Linked DNA regions of Homo sapiens: region 2 is linked to region 1. The links come from fine-mapping of genetic effects on gene expression. Tissue or cell type: whole blood. Region 1 holds a variant in brackets; the other region holds the start of a gene. All regions are shown on one strand. Distances are between the middles of the regions.

Region 1 (2,923 bases):
AGTTCATTCCCCACTTAAGACTTGCAACAGCTCCTCCCTCTGCCTGATATGATCAACCCGAGCTTCCCACACTTGCCATTCAGATCTGAGCTTAAATGACACCTACCTGAAGAGGCCTTCCTACTCTCCCACTCTTCCACTCTCCATTCTAAGGTCGCATCCTCACCCCACCTACCACCAGCACCTCCACCCTGCTTATATTCTCCCAAAGTACATCGCACTACTTAATATTTTTTGGCCCAATTATTTTTTGTCTCTTCTACTAGAATGTTAGAATTACAAGAAAGAGATCCTGTCTGTTTTATTCACTATTGTATCTTCAGTACTGGAACAGTACGTGGCACTTAGATATTCAATTATTTTTTACTGAATGTTTACACCACTCCTGAGAAGAATAAGCGTAAGCGAAAGAAGGTGAAGCTGGCTGTCCTGAAATACTGTAAGGTGGATGAGAATGGCAAAATAAGTCGCCTTCATCTAGAGTGCTCTTCAGATGAATGTGGTACTGGAGCGTTTATGGCCAGCCACTTTGACAGACATTATTGTGACAAATGTCTCATTGCTTCAGCAAACCAGAAGACAATTAATTGTGTATGAGTTAATAAAAGACATGAACTAACAAAACACATTTACTGAATGAATAAATGTATTAATAATTAAATGTCACTCCTCTGCCTAGAACATCCTTCCCCACGATCTCCCCATCATCCTTTAAGTTACTGATCCTCGGTCACTAATCCTGGGCCCCCCAAATTGTCTGATTTAAATGTCTTTCTTTTTTGTTCTTGCAGTGCCTTCTTTAGACTAGCATTAATTATATGTATTGTAGGGTTTTTTTACTTCTTTTTTTTTAATATGTATTGTAGTTCTTGATTACTTGTCTGTTTTCCCCTCAGACATGAGATACAAGCTACATGCTACTTGTGGGCAAAGCCCAGTTTTGTCACTTCTGAAACACACATGTAGCACCTTTGTGCAAATTAGAAACAGAACACCAAGTCTGATGAGTGTTTATGGGCTGGAATCCAGTCACCAATCTCTCTTCAGCAGGGAACAACCTATACATCTGTACATAGTGGCCCAGTAGACAATAACTGTGTTTTTAATTGAATGAGGGAGTCAATTTCCTCTGTATTTTAGCAGTTTTCTTAAAAGCAAAGGAACTAATGTGGGGAAAAGGATGAGGCTAACATTTATTGCAAGTCCACACTGCCACTGTTCTAGACTGTTTTCACACCTCTCATGTAATTCTTACAACAACCCTACGCAGAAAAGATTAGTTTTACCATTTTGTGGATGAAGAAATGAGCTTAGAGAGGTTTTGCAACTTCCCCAAGGTCGTACCATTGGTAAACAGTGCGTCTGTTGTGATGAAAGCCTAGGCCGGCCGGGCGGGGTAACTCACACCTGTAATCCTAGCACTCTGGGAGGCCAAGGTGGGCGGATCACAAGGTCAGGA[G/A]ATCGAGACCATCCTGGCTAACACGGTGAAACCCCGTCTCTACTAAAAATATAAAAAATTAGCCGGGCGTGGTGGCGGGCGCCTGTAGTCCCAGCTACTCGGGAGGCTGAGGCAGGAGAATGGCATGAACTCGGGAAGCGGAGCTTGCAGTGAGCCGAGATTGCGCCACTGCACTCCAGCCTGGGTGACAGAGCGAGACCCTGTTTCAAAAAAAAAAAAAAAAAAAAAAGAAAGCCTAGGCCTATCTGATTCCAAGTTTGCCTCTGGCTGGCTTTGGTCATATGGGAACCTGAGTGCTTGTTCCTAGGAGTCATGGGTTTTCTTGTTTGCTTTTTTATAATTTCAACTTTTAGATTCAGGGTATAATGTACAGGTTTGTTACATGGTTATATTGCATGATGCTGAGGTTTGGGATATGAATGATCCCGTCACCTAGGTAGTGAGCATAGCACCCAGTAGTTTTTCAACTCTTTCCCCCTCCATCCCTCCCGCCTCTAGTAGTCCCCAGTGTCACTGTTGCTTTTTTATGTCCAGAGTCATGGGTTTTATTTGCAATGCTGCGAGAAAAGGCCCCTTGAAGTTAAATTTTGCCTTGTTCCCCTTTTTTTTAGAGTCTCTTCACCCCTAGTATCAGTATACAGGGGACATTCAGTTGTTGACTGCCTGATGAATGTTTGCCAGTGTAAGTTTTTTCTGATATTTCTAAAGCTTTAGCAGAACTTTATTATTAAATAGTAATGTTATTCCATCAAATAATTTTTTACATGGATTATCACTTGTTGTGTTTTAGATTGCATTGTTTTCTTAATATGTTTGCAATTTTTGTTTTATTGCCAAGAATGGTGATAATACAGCATGCTAAATTTGAGATCCCTGTTTGTTAAGAAATGATTCGGCGGGCAAATTTAGTTAGAACTCTTTAAGCCTTAAGATATATTTTGTTTGCTTTTTTCTTTTTGTTGTGTAGAAGATACTTCTTTGTGGTTTTCAGTTTTGAAATTACATACACTTTCTGTAATGAAATTTCTGACAAAAGACAGTCAGTGTTTAATTGTCTTCTAAAATGGGAATGTTGCTTATCTCACAAAGCTGCAGTATTATCAATAATAAAATATGAGACTGTGTTAACAGGGTACTGTGAGCCATAAGTACCATAATACACACAGCCAAACTAGGATAGTTATGACGCATTATGTTGGAAGAACTTTTTATGGCAACAGCGTAAGTAGGAATTATCTTTTTGTTGAACATAAAGAATATCAGTGGACTTTTCCATTTGGATATCCTGACTCTTCATACCAAACATAACCAAAATCAACTTGTTCTTTACCAACCTCTCTACATTCTACAACTAGTTTTGTTTTTTTGTTTTTGTTTTTGTTTTTTTGGTGGGGGATGGTGTTTGTTTTTTGGGTTTTTTTTTTTTTTTGAAACAGAGTTTCACTCTTGTCACCCAGGCTAGAG
Region 2 (2,923 bases), 36 kb before region 1:
AGAGGTCAGTCAAATCTTATCCTTTTGCAGTTAAAACCAAGGCCCCAAAATATTCACTCATGCATAGTCACAGATTTTAAAACAATTCTTTTAGATGTGTTTCATATTTTATCATCCATTTATACTAATATTTGACCAAACAGTAATATGTGACCAGGAAAAAAAGTTTTATGTGTCACATCACAGGACCACTGTTCTGCACACAGCTTCTATTTTAGGTGTGGTAACTGAAGCATGGTTCATTTTTGGATCTCTGACTTAATAGCCTTGAGCCTTAGCTTCCCCTTCAGGAATGTATCTGCTGTTGCTTCAATTTCATACTGAGGCTTAATCAATGTTTACAAAATAGAGACCTAGCTAGAAAATCATGGCCACAAAAACTGACTTTAAGAGTACAGCTAATAAAATCTCCATATTACTGGTCTTGCTATCTACTCAAAAGGTGACTCCAAAAAAAACTAAGACAACAACCTAGTGAGCCATGACGTGCTTTGAAAGAAAATGTCTTCTTTAGAGTGAAGTCACAATGTAAATATATGCTATTCCAATATTTTTTTAATGAGCTGCAACACGCAAATGGAAAAATAAAGAACTAGCAGAGAAAACTGAGTTGGGTGCTGTTCCAGGGCTCCAAGAGCCTGCAAATGACTTGCAAATGACTCATGAGGCTGCTAGTAAAGGGATACAAGATCACATGGCCTTAAAACCAGGCCCCACGGCTGTTTGACACCCAGTAGTTGCTATCTTTGGCATCTCCAAATGAGGGCATCTAGGAACAACCAGCAAGGCTGGAGAAGCCAGTGTTACTAGCAATTCTTCATCACACTAACTTGACCCTCCTTTCAACTCCAGTGTGCAAATTTGCTTATTCACCAAGATTGGCTAAAGCAGCATCCCTTTAACAGAACCCTTTCTTATACCTTGACTGGAAACATGTAAGTAATTTCATTTTCCTCTGGTTTAGATCACTGCTAACAGTTGATTTTTTGTCATTTAAGAATTCTTTGACTATTTACAAATAAATATTCCAACAAATAAAGATAATTGTCTATGAAAAATTGCCTGGTGCTTTATTTTTTAACCAGGCAGGTGCTTGGTATCAAACCACAGAAATAACTCACACCAGTATTGCTTGCCACAAAATCAGAATTGTTATAATAGGGCATAATTCAAAGCTAATAAGCAGTGTTATTGAATGAGTCATGGTAATTTGTTCTTTAATTTCATTTCCCAGTCAATGCCTCTTCACATTCAGGAAGTAATTTTTAAAATCAAGTCTAAATCATTTCTATCAAAAATGAAAAACACAGAGCACATGCAACAAAAACTTCCCAGACTCGAGAATCATAATTCAGTCTCAGTAGAGTAATAGCATGCAAATTACTTACAAAAATGTGAGCTTTGACTGCTAGGTTACCAGAAAAACAAAACAAAACAAAACAAACAAACAAAAACTAATTGTTCAGAAGCAACTACAACAAAACTTTTCTACAAATTCTGTAGTTCTCTCTTTGCCTTTCTTCAGCATACGGGTGCTCCTATGAGACCCATAAGCCCCAGGATGAAACTGTTGGTCTATATTGTGTCAATTTAGCCAAGCAGTGTAAGATTCCAAATCCTGACTTTTTTCATAATGTCTAAGGTTTTTAGTAAATATATTACTAAAACTATGCTTTAAAAAGAAAACAACAAAAAAACACCATGCCCTGATTTAGTTGGTAACTGATGAGGTTTTTATTGGACTGAAGTTACCGTCCTTATCTGGCTGAAGCAACTGTTAGCTGACACCACCTTTCCAGCACTCCTGCCATGGTATGCTTCCATATATAAATATCCTGTAGCAGGCGGAAGCTGCCACTATGATGACTGACTTGCAAACACTCCAGACAAACCAGAGAACTGCAATAAACACGGACAGAATATGATTATGACATCATAACAAGGATGATGGCAGGTCAGACGCCTAGTGCTTCCAGTAGCTACAAAAAGCGATTGTGAGTGGGCGATTTCATGGATACAGACCCACCACAGGTGAAGGAAGCACTCCATCTCATCGGCCGCCTTTCCTTTACAAAGGCTTTGTTCTGTGAGTGTCTGCACATCCTCCTTTCTCAGGAATAACAGCCTTCCATATATGTGGTTCCCTCACATACATGCCAAGGAGCTTCTGCCCTCTGCTGTACATAAAAGATGCTACAGTGATGAGGAGACCAACTATCTCAGCAGGATACTAACAGTGAGGTTGTGAACAACTGTGCAATCCTTTATCATCCTCACTTCCATTGCCATAGCTTGATGGACATTATTCATCTTTGAAACATTTTTCATGTCAGTGAGAAAATAGGTGTTCCACAAAATTTTCTTTGAGACAGAGTCTTGCTGTGTTGCCCAGGCTGGAGCGCAGTGGCATGATCCCAGCCTACTGAGACCTTCCTGCTTCCAGATTCTCCTGCCTCAGCCTCCCAAGTAGCTGGGATTACAGGTATGTGCCACCATAGCTGGCTAATTTCTTTATTTTTAGTAGAGATGGGGTTTCACCATGTTGGTCAGGCTAGTCTTGAACTCCTGACCTCAAGTGATCCACCCACCTCGGCCTCCCAAAGTGCTGGGATTACAAACTTGAGCCACCATGCCCGGCCCAAAATTTTCTTTACACCTATATCCCATACGGACCTCACTCTGCTTTGGGGGAAGAGGAATGTCATTTTTTTTTTCCCTTCACACTACCTAGTCTAAGAGGGAATGTCATTTTTTCAAGCCTCATCTGTACCCAAAGACTAATTCTTGGAGGAAGACAATATAACTAGTAACTTTTCTCAGAAACATACGTTAAAAAGCTATGTCAAATTTCTCTGAATAATGAAAATGTTCATGTTAGCTATTATGCTGTTTTTAAGAAATCTCCCAACTACCTGATCTGCCT

What was found.
Region 2: LSMEM1 starts here. The variant in region 1 is fine-mapped to the expression of LSMEM1 in whole blood (TOPMed, PIP above 0.99).

Annotation. Positions count from the first base shown.
Region 1 is chr7:112,443,828-112,446,750 of GRCh38, reverse strand. It overlaps a transcript of LOC105375457 not described here and a transcript of IFRD1 not described here. Among named protein-coding and RNA genes, the nearest start is that of IFRD1, 5.2 kb to the left of the region's middle. The variant G/A (reference allele first, on the strand shown) is at 1,460.
Region 2 is chr7:112,479,812-112,482,734 of GRCh38, reverse strand. It overlaps LSMEM1 (leucine rich single-pass membrane protein 1), which reads right to left and starts at 1,744. Exons shown (of 4, transcript NM_182597.3): 1 at 1,389-1,744.